Linked DNA regions of Homo sapiens. The protein of the gene in region 1 interacts with the protein of each later gene in a pairwise test. Each region holds a gene or a part of one and is shown on either strand. Other genes may lie near its edges.

The links. Proteins that work in one complex are often made in the same cells at the same time.
Region 2: the proteins of TAGLN2 (region 1) and GDAP1 interact in binary tests that used the Homo sapiens proteins (3 or more experiments, as listed by UniProt).

Annotation. Positions count from the first base shown.
Region 1 is NC_000001.11:159,922,502-159,930,000, reverse strand, and holds the start of TAGLN2 (transgelin-2), read left to right. Parts: upstream 1-4,493; 5' UTR 4,494-4,551; exon of another isoform or gene 4,552-5,522; intron 5,523-6,049; exon of another isoform or gene 6,050-6,123; intron 6,124-6,266; exon of another isoform or gene 6,267-6,530; coding exon of another isoform or gene 6,531-6,565; intron 6,566-7,499. Other genes in the region: IGSF9 (protein turtle homolog A isoform a precursor), read left to right, coding at 26-110, 187-363, 608-650, 983-1,843, 2,114-2,241, 2,475-2,656.
Region 2 is NC_000008.11:74,346,445-74,353,414, reverse strand, and holds the start of GDAP1 (ganglioside-induced differentiation-associated protein 1), read right to left. Parts: upstream 3,013-6,970; 5' UTR 2,954-3,012; coding exon 2,837-2,953; intron 2,144-2,836; exon of another isoform or gene 2,142-2,143; coding exon 1,949-2,141; intron 1-1,948. UniProt on the Homo sapiens protein: Regulates the mitochondrial network by promoting mitochondrial fission.

The DNA of each region.
Region 1 (7,499 bases):
TCCTGGTACCCCATCCCCATCGCAGGATGTTCTCTACGAGTTCCGCCTCGTGGCCTTCGCGGGCAGCTTCGTCAGCGACCCCAGCAACACGGCCAACGTCTCCACTTCCGGTGAGCACCTGGCGTGAGGGAGGAGCCCCAGGGCTGCTCCGAGTCCACTGACCCTCCCTCGTGGACCCCTGCCTAGGTCTGGAGGTCTACCCTTCGCGCACGCAGCTGCCGGGCCTCCTGCCTCAGCCCGTGCTGGCCGGCGTGGTGGGCGGAGTCTGCTTTCTGGGAGTGGCCGTCCTTGTGAGCATCCTGGCCGGCTGCCTCCTGAACCGGCGCAGGGCTGCCCGCCGCCGCCGCAAGCGCCTCCGCCAAGGTAAGTCCCTCCACCCTCAGCCCTGCTACTGCGCACTTGGGCCTAGCCTCCTTAAGCCCCTCCTACCTGGGGGAAAAGCCCTCGCTCCTGTGTGATCCAGGTGCATTCTCTTAGTCCTGCATCTGGTCCTGCCTACGCTTTTCCCAGCCGGATGGGGTTGGGCGCCTGGTGTTGGGTGAGAGAGTCTCCGCCTAGAGGGCCTTGATTTTTGCCTGTGTCACCTACTATTCTCATGCCCTTCCAGATCCACCTCTTATCTTCTCTCCGACCGGGAAGTCAGCTGCACCGTAAGTGCCTCCACCTCCTTGGCTTTCTTCTGCCTTTCCATTGTACGTGCCAGTATCTTCTGCTTCCTTTTTTGCATCTTTACCAGGGGGATGTTGGGTGTTGGGGAGGAACAAAAGTGGGAGAGGGTAAGAAGGGGTGTGCAGTGGCCCCAGCCTGAGGCCGTTCCAGTATGGCCTGTGCCTTCCCTCCACCCCTCCACCTTGTTGGTCCTTTCCTCGCTTGTTCTTCCTAGCTCTGCTCTGTTGTTCACCAAACCTCTCAAGGCCTGACGCTGGCTCCTGGGAGGGGGACCTGCCCCTACCACAGACCCTGATCTCCTGTCCTTCCCCAGCTCTGCTCTGGGCTCAGGCAGTCCTGACAGCGTGGCGAAGCTGAAGCTCCAGGGATCCCCAGTCCCCAGCCTGCGCCAGAGTCTGCTCTGGGGGGATCCTGCCGGAACTCCCAGCCCCCACCCGGATCCTCCATCTAGCCGGGGACCCTTACCTCTGGAGCCCATTTGCCGGGGCCCAGACGGGCGCTTTGTGATGGGGCCCACTGTGGCGGCCCCCCAGGAAAGGTCAGGCCGGGAGCAGGCAGAACCTCGGACTCCAGCCCAGCGTCTGGCCCGGTCCTTTGACTGTAGCAGCAGCAGCCCCAGTGGGGCACCCCAGCCCCTCTGCATTGAAGACATCAGCCCTGTGGCACCCCCTCCAGCAGCCCCACCCAGTCCCTTGCCAGGTCCTGGACCCCTGCTCCAGTACCTGAGCCTGCCCTTCTTCCGAGAGATGAATGTGGATGGGGACTGGCCCCCGCTTGAGGAGCCCAGCCCTGCTGCACCCCCAGATTACATGGATACCCGGCGCTGTCCCACCTCATCTTTCCTTCGTTCTCCAGAAACCCCTCCTGTATCCCCCAGGGAATCACTTCCTGGGGCTGTGGTAGGGGCTGGGGCCACTGCAGAGCCCCCTTACACAGCCCTGGCTGACTGGACACTGAGGGAGCGGCTGCTGCCAGGCCTTCTCCCTGCTGCCCCTCGAGGCAGCCTCACCAGCCAGAGCAGTGGGCGAGGCAGCGCTTCGTTCCTGCGGCCCCCCTCCACAGCCCCCTCTGCAGGAGGCAGCTACCTCAGCCCTGCTCCAGGAGACACCAGCAGCTGGGCCAGTGGCCCTGAGAGATGGCCCCGAAGGGAGCATGTGGTGACAGTCAGCAAGAGGTGAGAGCAGTCCCTGCCCATCCCTGCCTCCGCCTCAGTCCCACCCCAGACCTCTCACCCCTCTCCCAATACCCTGCACCTTCTCTGCTCCACTCCCACCCTGGGAACGGGAAAACTTGTCCCTTTTAGAAGCTTTTGCTGAGGTCCAGGGATTTTTCAGGGGAAACCCATGACCTAACGTGAGTTTGCGGTCGCTGAATTCAGACTTTTCTGAACAGCCTCTATTCCTCCACCCACACCATATGTTTGTCTTTTTTTTTTTTTTTACAGGAGGAACACATCTGTGGACGAGAACTATGAGTGGGACTCAGAATTCCCTGGGGACATGGAATTGCTGGAGACTTTGCACCTGGGCTTGGCCAGCTCCCGGCTCAGACCTGAAGCTGAGCCAGAGCTAGGTGTGTGAGCCCCCCGGAAAGGCAGGCATCTCGGCCATACTGTCCCACATCCCCCCGCCACCTTAGGACCCATCTATTCCCAGTCAGGCCCTGCCTCCCAGGCTCCTCTGCTCTAGACTGTGCCTTGCCCCCTTGGGCCATCTGTACTGGAAGGGCCTAGCGAGCTTCACATCTGAGCTCTTCACTCAGTGAACCTCAGGGCTTCTTCTCATTGTCCTGCCCGCCTCTTGCAGGTGTGAAGACTCCAGAGGAGGGCTGCCTCCTGAACACTGCCCATGTTACTGGCCCTGAGGCCCGCTGTGCTGCCCTTCGGGAGGAATTCCTGGCCTTCCGCCGCCGCCGAGATGCTACTAGGGCTCGGCTACCAGCCTATCGACAGCCAGTCCCCCACCCCGAACAGGCCACTCTGCTGTGAACATCCCTGATGTGAGGCTGTGAAAAGGCATATGGACCTGCAAAGGAGGCCCCCAACCAGACAGACCTAGTTTCAAACGAGGGCACTGCCCCTGCCTGCCCCTTTGGTGCCCAGGCACAGACCCTGATAGTGGGTTTGGGTCACCTTGGTATGGAATGTATGTGCTGACCCCCTAGGTGAGTCTGGGGATTGGAACAGGGATCTTAGGTCTGCCTCTCTCTCTCTCTCTCTCTCTCTCTCTCTCTCTGTGTGTGTGTGTGTGTGTGTGAAGTTTTTTACAGGTGAATAAACAAAGTTTGAAAGATGTTTCTGTGTGTTATCTGTCTTTGAGAGAGTGCCAGGAAAATCCCTGGACCCTTAAAGAAGAGGAGAATCTTCTTGAATAAATGGAGGTGCATTCAGCATTCATTCAAGAACATTTATTGAGTGCTTACGGAGGCCAGCTACTAAAGGCCAGCCACTGAAGTAGATACTGAGAAAATACAAAGCTCTGGAAGCACGCCTTTGCCCTTGAGGAGTTCTTTCTAGTCAGTGAGGCGGACAAAGAAATAGTTACCGTATGATAAGTTCCGTGATAAAGCTATGTGTTGGTTATTGTAGCACAAAGGAAGATGTTGCATTCAAGGCCACCTTTAGTGAACGCTAATATCGTGTGCTGGGACAAATGCCACATATTGGGGGGGAGTCCTCAGGACCCTCACAGATAGATGGTGGTAATAATAGTATTCACTATGTGCCAGGCACTGCTCTAAGCCCTATAGGTGGACTGTTTAGTTCTCTACAATTCTATGAATTAGGTAGTACTATTAGCTCTGTTCTATAGACCAGGGAACTCAAGCATAGAATGCACAACAGTCACACAGCAGGTAAAGGGTAGAGCAGGTGGGGAGCCAGTCAAGGAAGGGAAACTGTCCTAGGCAGAGGAATAGCCTTTGTAAAGGCACAGAAGAGTGAGAATGCTTGACAATCAGTGGGACTGGAATATAGGGCTGTGTAGGACTCGGGGAGGGAACAGAGAATAATAGAAAGGTTGGACAGGACTGGATATTGACATCCTGGAATCTCAGGTTCAAGGGAGGACTCTATCATGTGTGCAGAACTCCACCCCGGGGGACTCTATTCAACTGAAGCCTGAAAGGATGGGGGGCTCTTTCTCCACCCCTGAACTGTGCTGTCCTCCACCCTCAGAGACAAAAGAACCCCAGCCAGCCTCCTCGCGCTGAGGTCTCCCCCTCTGATCCCTCCAGGATTTAGGAAGAGATACCAGGTCATAGAAAAGGAGATGAAAGGCAGGGAGAAGACAGGTCTGAGCCCTGGGTCCCAACACCGAAAACACCCCTAGGGCCCTGGGCAGAGTGACCTCACTGTTAGTCCCTGCCCAGGCTTGAAGTAAGAGGTGAGCAAGATCACGTGGGGGTGCTGTCCCGGCCTGCAAGTCCCAGTCCTGTCACACACTAGTCAGTTGGGGTCGGGGGAAGGCCTTCCTGTGCCTCCTTTTACCTTGCCAGCCTCTAAACTAGGAGGCTTCTTCCTACATAAACACGCCCACAGTGTTTAGCTAACTTTCTAGGCAGAAAGTTTCCTACTGGGGCACAAGTCTACGGGCTCTCGGTGGAGGCTGAGGTACTCACGGGTGGAGACCACTGCAGCCGCCTTTGTAGATTCAGACTCCCCGAACCTTTAACCCTTGCTCTGGTCTACTGTCCCTCTGTCTCAAGCAGTCCTCCCTCCTTCTGCGCTGCGGCGCCTTTAAACCTTCTTGGCCCTTGCCCCGCCCCGGGTCCGCCCCGTCTGAGGCGGGACCCTCCTGAAAATCCCCGGCTGGGCAGGGCGCACCACTTGCAGCTGCAGCCCTTGCCTTGAGTCAGTGCGCCGCTCTCCAGCCCGCTTGAACGGTGAGCAGGTCGGGGGTACGGGGGTCGGGGACATGTGCGTGCTGTGTAGAAAGCAAGAAGCCAGCGCTTTGAACTTGCTCCAGCGAGCTCGGGGATCAAGGGCTGGTACCAGGCAAGGGTCCGGTGACTACTTTACCCCGCCCCGTGCTGTCAGGTCCTGTCCCCAAGCCCTGACCCGACATTGTTGGACGATGAGGTCAGGCGAGGTTAGCCCATGCATAGACAGGGCGTCCGTCTGGAGCAGGGACTCAGGGACTGAGCCCCACCCGCGGGCTCCATCGCTGAGTCCTCACTGGGGCGAGGGGAAAAAAGGGCGTCGGACTTTAGCTGGCTGGCCCCGAGTGACCCCGGGTCGTGGCGCCGGCCCTGGGCCAGCTCGTGCTCCTGGGCTTTCCCGCGCGACCCTTCACTTCCTGGTTCCAGGAGCACGTGTGAGCACTGCGTGCCCTCTGAGTCCCCGAGGCCGCCCTTTTCATTCCTGTTCCTGCTAGCTTGCTATTCTGGGGACTTGAGGTCACGGGCTGGGGCTAGGGGGCTCTGCATGGGTCGCACGGTGACCTTCTGTGAAGCTCCAGTCATCTCTATGACGGTCCCCTGACCTCGGGGGTCTGGGTGCTGCAGCCCTGACTGCGCCCCGGGGTGCCCTGTGTGAGGTTGTGGGGGTGGTGGTGGCTGCTTTTACCCTGCCCGAGCGCCGCTGCCCCCACCGGGTGCCCCCTGCTGCTGGGAAAGCCGGTGGTGGCCGCGGGCGGACGGGCGGGCTGCCCAGACCACTGCGTCACCCCAGCGGCGGGAGGGCGGTGGGTGACTCATCTGTTGTAACGGCCCAGGGTGTGGTCGTGGGGGTGGGGGGCGGCGGCTGGGAGGCCGGACCTGCAGGACCGGAGGTGGACTGCCGCCTCCCCCCGCGCCCTGTGCCTCCTGGGGCTACCTGAAGCCGGTGTCCTGGGAGATCTGTGAGCAGTTGGTATCTGTGGGGCAGAGAGAAACGGGGTGAGAGTGGGGATGGAGTGTGGGATTCGATGTAGAAGACCTGCGGCTGGGACGGGGCTCCCCCAGTGTTCTCATTGACTTCAAAGCACCAGACAGCAATGGCTCTCTATCTCTAGCCCCCTCCCAGTTTCTCCTCCCCACTACAAGGGGCAGACCTACAACTGCAGAGGAGGCCAAGGCAGGGCGGGCCCAGTAGGGCCCTACCATTCCAGAACCAACAAATAGGTTTTGTCCAACCGCAACTCCCTCCCTCACCCCAAGGCCTCTGCCCCTGTCCCCCACCCCGGGATTGGCCCCTAATCCTTTCTTCATTCCATCCCTTCTCCCTCCAGAATTTTCAGCTGTGGGTTCTCTAGCTCAGAACACTTTCCCTTCCCAGGGGATTTCTTCTCCTGAACAACTACTTCCTGAGTCCTCTTCTTCACCCCAACACGGGTCATTTCCTATCTTCCCCCACACGCTGTCCATCCCCACTATAGCTGTCTCCTGGAATAATCTCTTGCACCTGGCTACACCCGAGCACTGCTGAGACGATCCCACTTCTGCTCCCGTGCTCACAGCCTGCTCACCACAACGTCTGTGTTGACAGGGTGTTTCTGCCCGGAGCCCCCACCCAGCCTCCAACACTGTTTGGTACACAGAAGCCATGGCAACGGCCCCCACCTCATCCCCTCCTCCCACGCAAGCTTTGGAGCTTCCTGTTTGTGTAGCCTCAGCTTTCTCTTCTGCTCCTGACTCTCGGTGGTGAGGGGCTGCCCTACGGTGGTTCCCTTAATTGTGGGCCGCCCCCCATCCTTGCTGCTGGCTGTGGCACCTCGCTCTGTGGGCTGGTGCCCTCACTGTGCTGCTCTTTGAGAACACTCCCTGTCCCAAATCTGAGTTGGGAAGTTCTCCTGTGTTCCATCTGCACGGTGGATGGAGAGTCCCTTTGTCTTCCCAATTAAACACCCTAGCCAAGAACCCTGAAGTCCTCCCTGCCCCCACCCATGTCCGCCTTTTCTTTGGCTTTGGCTTTGGTGAGGTAAGCTTCCAGCCCAGGGTCTGGGTGGGGCCGAGTGCCTTGCGTGGCCCCTCCCCGTTTCCCGCCTATTGTAACTCCAGGGTGAGGGTGAGGGTTGTTCTCACAGCTGCAGTAGCGCTAGGGTTTAGGTTGCTCCCTGCCAGTCCATCCCCCAGGTTGTTCAGCTGTCACCTTCCTTTGGGGTCCCCAGCTCTGGGGGTCCCCCACACCTGTCTTCCAGCTGGGCATATCTCTTCTCACCCTGGTAGGCAACTTGCTTACTGTTTTCTTTATGTTTGAGGGAAGGCAGGGGCAGGTCCCCTGGGTGTCCCTAGGGTGGGCCTTCCCAGCTCCAGCAGCCGCAGCCCATCAGCTTCTGCCTGCCCGTGGGGGTGGGGAAGAGAAACAGCTGCTGACCAGGCCTGGCCTGGTTGGAACTGCCCCTTCTCAGGACCCCGCCCTATGGCTCTGGCACCTCAGAGCTTGAGGGCAATGGCCCCAGAGTGGAGCAGATACACTGCAGCTGGAGGCCGTGACCCTGCCAGCTGTGTCCAGGCCCCAGCGTTGGGCGGTGGAGGGGGTTCCTCAGCATCCACTTTCCACCCAGTGGTGGGTCTGGGAGGCCAAGTTTGTCCTGCCTTGGGGGGTTGGGGGGCACTGGAAGTGTCTGGCTTCAGGCCTTTCTCTCTGCTCTTAACCCCAGTGTCTAGGTTAATCATTCTCCTGCCCTTTCTTTACCTGTGCCATGGTGATCCCCGAGCCTCAGGCCACTTGGTCCCTGGAAACAGCCCTGAGCACAGCCACTCCCAGGAGAGAGGTCTGGAACTGGGCTGCGGAAAGGGGGCTTACTGGTGGTAGTAGCTCTTAGCCCCTTCCTCTTCCTACCTGTCTTCCAGCCATTCCCCTGTGCATCAGAGGTTAGAGGTTTCTATGGTGGAGTGGCCTCTGGGAAGGG
Region 2 (6,970 bases), on another chromosome or scaffold:
TGCTGTCGTCCTATCTACCATAAGTTTTGGGTCCCTTAATCGTTTTTTCGTCCTTCCCAATTGATTGAAAGATATTCAACAAGTTAGTGGCAGCATCAGACTAAAAGCTAGGACTCTTGATTGCTGAGTTACAATAATAGTTCAACCAGAATTAAAGTCTGCACTTTCCATATTTCCATCCTGTCACAGCCTACAGTGCCTTCTCTTCTAATTCTTAAGTAATCAAAAGAACTTAGCATTTCCTTTGTTTGGTTATTTAAATACAACTTAGCAGGACACAGAACTTATTTCTGCTTTGTTACTATTCTGTACTAAAAGCAAAAGAGAAAGACTAAGGAAAATTGTAAGAAAACCTAATAATTGGTAACATTACTATGTTGTAAATATAATTTATATCACTGAATTTCTTAGAGGAAAAACAGTGTAAGGAGGGGATGGAGGAGGGGAATGATGATAGTAGAAGCAGTTCAGGCAATGCTACCAAAAAACTTAAATGGGATTTTCCATTTAGAATACCTTTTTAAAGTTTTTGATCATTTAAAATAGATTTATTAACACAATTATTTTGTTTTGTTCCATTATAATTACATCCCCCAAGAAATACAAATTAACACACTTATCCATTTCCAAAAAGCTCAAGATTGAGAAAAATTCTCTTAAATGAACTAGTTGTCATTTTCAGTACAGTCCCCAGCATATAAATTTATAAGGAATAGCAAATAAAGATGAAAAGAAAGTACATCATTAAATGCTTTGGTTTACGCTAAAGCTACCTTTAATTAAAACCGCCAATCACAATCCTAGGGGACTAGCACTTAGATTAAGAACAGGGGTAGCCCATTGCTAATCTAATTCCCTGGGCTTCCCCCTCGCCACTGCCCACCATCTAGGCCTAATAATACTCATTTTCCTTCTAAGTACATGAGACTTTTTTTTGTCCTAGTAATTTCCTTTGTCAGCTTCCTGTAGTTTGGGGCTAGGTTCTGCTTTCACCTACCCTATTAACATCAACATAACTGGTGGCAGATGAAAAGTAACAATCTCATACAGCCTTTTTAGAAGAGCATTCAGCTGGAAGCTCTGAGCACCATGTTCTGCTCTCATCAATGTCCATTGTGATCAGCTGTGTAGTCTTTGGTAACTCTTTGAAGCTACAGTTCACTTCAAAGGATTATTATTAGGAACAAGCAAGACAATGTGTAAGTGGCAAGGATTATGGGAGACAGTCAGTGTAGTATGAAGGCTTTGGAGACCAAAGACTCTGCCATACAATAGCTATATTACTTTGGGCAACCCTGTTGCTTTCTCCTCATTTACATAATGGGAATAACTTGTCTACCATGCCTGTCTCAGACAGATACTTTTGAAGACATTATTGAAGAAATTATAAAATGTCTGACACATAACAAGCTGTTAATAAATGATTTACCTAAATGCACTATACAAATTTAAGCCCTATAATTCCTTAGTAAAGATATAAAATTCAAACAATTCAGAAGTGACTGGGGCAAAGAACTCAGGTATACTAACATTCTATTCTCCTTTAAGATTTATTGCTCTTTTTTCCCTCTTGTTTTTAAGGTGAAACCATTTGGTATATTAGATGAAATCGTCACAGTGCACATTTAGAATATTATGAATTTAAGACTAAGAAATCACCAACACAAACCACACATTTGCAGTTTTTTGCAAGTGAATTTTTTTAAGTTTCAACATTAACATTTGTATTTTGCATTAAATTATTTTAAATAGCATTACACTAGCCTATACAAAATTTGTTATTGACCTATTTGATATTTGTGTGCTTATGGAAATGGAAAAGGTTTTTAATCCCAAACCACCATCATGACACAAGAGAAAGAGAGAGAGGAGAGAGAGAAAAAGAGAAAGGGAACACATAGTTGTGTTGAAAGTAAATCCAAGAAATCGCAAGTAGCCTTAACATTACCATCCAGGAAAGTCTGTTCAAGATAATCAATGATCTGAGTGGCCTCACAAATTATGTTTTCCCCGTGGATAAGGACAGGCACTTCTCCAGTTGAGTTCAAACGCATAAACCAAGGCTCATTGTGCTCACTCAAGGGCAGACTTACATCATGTTCCTCGCACTTCAATGCCTTTTCAGCAATTACCAAGCGCACCTGGAAGAGTTCACACTGGTTACTACAACACATGTAAGCTTTCAATTAAATGACTTCCCTGGACACCGCTAAGCAGCCTTTCTGGGCTTCCCTGTGTTACCGACATTTTCAACAGTCGTTTTAACAATTCCTATTCCTGGAATTAACAAGTAAGGAAAGAACAATACTCAACAAATTAAGAGAAGAACACAAAATAAGTAATGAAATGATTCTGACTGTATTCATTAAACAGTCACCCTCCTCATCACTACCACTTTCTCGGTGTCCTAAACCTGATTATGGGTCCTCCCCAGACAAGAACCTGACATGTAGGTACATCAGCTCTTGCTGAAGACAGTGAATGCGAGAGAGCAAAAGAAGAGATCGCAGATTATGAGGGTCCACAAAGGCACCTCCCTCTGCCTCTCTCCGAAGACCAGCAGGCAAGGCCTCCAGACCAAATACTGAAAATGATGCTTTTTTGTCGCATTTCGCGAGAGGCGGAGCCTGGGCCATAGCCACATAGGATCATCTCCGATCGATTCTCCCCGCTCCCCACCCGGGCGCGTCCCCGCCTGGAGGGAGCGCCTGCCCGGGGTCAGGACACTGGAGGCGGATTTCTAGGTGGACCGGCTTCCCTGGGCGGGACTCAGAAGGAGCTGTCCCAGTGCTGAAGCCCGATCCGCGCCACCCTCCGCCGCCAAGGCCTGTTGTACCTTTTGAGAGCTGAAGGAATGCGTCCAATGGTACAGAATGAGCTTAACCTCCGCGTCGGCCTTGCCTTCCGCCCTCAAGGGCGGGCTCCCTCTCTGCTCTTCCTGCCTCTCAGCCATCTTGGGGTGCGCGAGCACGGGTGCGCCCAGCCTGTCCGCCCTGGACTTCTCCCTCCCACACTGCCCCGCAAGGCGTTTCCGGGTTTTGAGGGGTACCTGCCGGAAGGAGGGCGCGCGGCCCGCTGGGAAATGTAGTTTCGCCGGCGGCAGAGTCTGCGAACACGCGGGGTCTGCGACTGGAAAGCCCCTGGCAAGCCTGGGAGTGCACCTGGGAGGTGCAATTGAACGGTTGTTTTTTGGGTTTGTTTTTTTTTTTAGAAGAAAAAATAAAAAATATGAGACCCTGGTTATGAAGGGCAGTAAGGAAGAATGATGATAGCAAATTACTCTTCGGTTTGGAGGTTGCTCAGGTATAAAAGCAGCAATTTCCCAAGATACTGAGGGTTGCTCTTGGAGCCTGTTCCTTTGTTGGAAAGGAAGTTCCGGTCGACAAGCAAAGCAACAGGAAAAGGATCTATGAGCTTTCATTAGAAGATGCTACTATGACATTAGTGGACTAATTCCACAAATTTGACTAACTGCTGTAGATTAGAGAATAGTCTTGTATAAACAGTAAGTACTTGATTTTGATAATTAAACTGTGCTTTGTAAAAGAAAAAAAAATACCACTATGGAGTCATGCAAAAAAACTGTTTTTGTCATAAACAGCTAATAAACAATGGCGATATAAAATAGCCTAGTTGTTAAACACAAAAATTCTACAACAGTACTGCCTAAGTTCATATCCTGGTTTTTCCATTTTCTAAGTAAGAATAATAATTTTATTGTTTCCCTCATAAGATTTTTGTGAAAAATTAATAATAAAATGTTAAACACTCAGAACACCCTGTCACGTTGTAGGCACTCAGTCTTAGTCACAGGTTCAGTTGTCTTATAAACATTCTGTTATAACCATAGTCAGAATCATAATTTTATATTAGTCTAGTTATTATTGTATGTCTTTAAAAATTTGGCATCATATAGTAAGTTGATTTTAAAAATCTCTTTCAGTAATATGTATAAATATGACCATAGAATAAATGCCTGTATAATTTATCTGGCAAATATTTATTGAGCACCTACACTGTTCCAGACATTGTGCTGGCTCCTGGTAATATAAAGATGTGTGAAATCTAATATCTAACACTCAAGATATAATCTGGCAGTAGAGACGACCAAGGAAATAGACAATCACAATAAAGATGAGAACTGTCTTAGGGTGAACACAGAGTACTATGAGAAAGGAGGGGCAGGCAGCCAACCCAGGTCAGAGAAGGGCCCCTGGAAAAGACAAAATCTCATGAGGTTCTTCCTTGCCTTTACAGTACTTCATTTGTTACTCTCTGTAATTCTTTCATAATTTTTTAAGATTTCATAATGTCTTTTATATCCTTCAGTTAATTCAAGTGCTATAGAAAAGGTGAATTCCTTGCCAAAATTGTTTTTATCAGTTCACACTTAAGAGTAAGAGCGGAAAGAGGAAAACTTTGAAATCGGACAGAGTGGGGTTTAAATTCTAGCTCTACCCTAACTTGAGCTTTCTTGAGCTTTGACTTCATTGTGTGTAAAAAATGGATACATAAAAATTATATGCCTACCCAGATGGCTGTGGGAATTCAAGAAAGGATATATATAAAGCACCTAGGGTATTGCCTGGAATGTAGCCATTGATAAAAACATATGTGTAAAAGCCCCTTCACTGACATTAGGAGGGCATTATATTACATTTCATCCTCTCTCTGTAGGTCTCAAAATTTTTACAACTACCCATATAATCCTCCTCTCCCATTCCTCTTCAGAACTTCATTTTTTAATTATCCACCTTCAGATTCCTAGTTTTCTATTCCATTACCTTCAATAGCAAACACCACGCTTACTTTTGCACCAACCTTAATACTAAATCATCCTAAATATTTGAATAAATTCCAGTACTCGTGATAAGCCATGTGTCACCTGCAGCTGAAAAAGTCCTGACAATAAAGCCCTGGTCCCTCAAACACAACACTTTTCTCCATCACATCCTGCCCACAGCAAAGCCATAGAAGAAACACTGAATGACTTGATTACTTGGTGTTTAGTACAAAGCATTCATAGATCTCATTGGGAGTGTAAACATGCACAGAACTTCTGAAGGCAAATGTATCAATATGCTTCAAGAATCGTGAAAATGGGCATAACTTCTAACCTAGAAATTCCTCTATTTGCAATTTAAGGAAATAATTCTGACAAATTCTGACAGTTGATCCTACCTATTTTTCCCTTCTTCCGTGGTAATAGAAATTTTAGCTGAGCACATGACTGCTGAGAATAAAGACTGTATTTCCTAGGCTCTATTGCAGCAAAACATGGTCTCCTAACTATCTTCTAACAAGGGGAAAGTCATGGATGTGCCACAGGGCAAGTGCTGGGAATCTTTCTTAAAGAGACAATTAGCCCTGTGCCTCTTCTTCATCCCATCCTCCATCCTGCTTCAGAGAGGATGGATTCTGACCTGGACCATGAAGAATGGGGCCACGCCTTAGGAACAGCTGGGCCATGAACTTGGGGAAAATTGAGCTTCTAAAGACACTGAGGAGCAGAACCCACACCAACTTGGGTCTGCAAACCTCCAAACTTTTACTTGAAAAGGAAAAAAAGGATCTTGTGTAAGGCACTGTTATTTGGTGCTTTCTGGATGCTATTGTCTTAACCTATCCTCATCAATACATCAATCTTGTAAAATATAGGTGGCTTTTATTTCTTTATGATTCTGTATACTCTAATTGTTTTATAATGAATGTGTGTTGCTTTTACCTGTTAAAGGTGTGAACACTAAAAGAATATCATTAAATAGATGACATAAGGAAAAATGTGTTTGTTTTATCACAATAGAACTGCTACATCTACTTCCAATGATCTATAATCACTTTTTTCCCATCCCAATAAAAGCCACTGTTGGTAATATAAAAACCTTATTATCCTTTCACATGTTTATTCAGAGCTCCTACTACACTGTGTATTCTGTGTCTATGGTTTTTGTAGATCATAGACATGATCATTGTGGGCTCCTTGAGGACAGGAGCCAGGTCCAGGTAAATTTGTTTTCAATATACATTTTTTGAGCCTTAAGTGCTAGATAGAGAAGATACAGAGTTCAAAGTCAGTCACAGTCACTGGCCTTAGGGAAATCAAGTGTGAAGGCAGAGAAATGAGATCCCAACACAGTGTGGTACTTGCTGTGACATCTAGAAAGTTATAGTAGGAATATAGAGAAAGGCACCTAACACAGATAGGCTTCCCAGAAGAGGTGATAATCTTTACCATAACTAGTACCATACTAACACAATTACCATTATATCCAGGGTGGTGCCCCCACTGGCTCATGATAGCTGATTGTTAAATTTTCAGGAATTTGCAAAGTGGATGTTCAACTCAGCTATTAATCAAAATTAAATCAAACTGAGTTGCATTTAAATGAATTATTTCCGCCGGGCACGGTGGCTCATGCCTGTAATCCCAGCACTTCAGGAGGCTGAGGTGGGCGGATCACGAGGTCAGGAGATCAAGACCATCCTGGCTAACACGGTGAAACCCTGTCTCTACTAAAAAATTAGCCAGGCGTGGTGGCGAGTGCCTGTAGTCCCAGCTACTCGGGAGGCTGAGGCAGGAGAGTGGTGTGAACCCGGGAGGCGCAGCTTACAGTAAGCCAAGATCACGCCACTGCACTCCAGCCTGGGCGACAGACTCCATCTCAAAAATAAATAAATAGATAAATAATTTTAAAAATAAAACTAGCAAATACTTAAAACTCATCACTTCCTAATTATGTGTATTATTATCTATACTCCTGAGTTTATTTGTGTCTATCATATCCATACAAGGCAAACAGTATATAAGGATGTGCTACTTGCATATCTCTTCCTCTCTGTTCAGTGATGTCATGTTAGTGACTTGAAATTGGCCATGGTAGAACTATTTACAGAAATCGGTAAATGCTATCATGTTTAACTTTTTCCCAGAAAGTTGGTTGTTAAATATTTACTACTATACCATTGAATG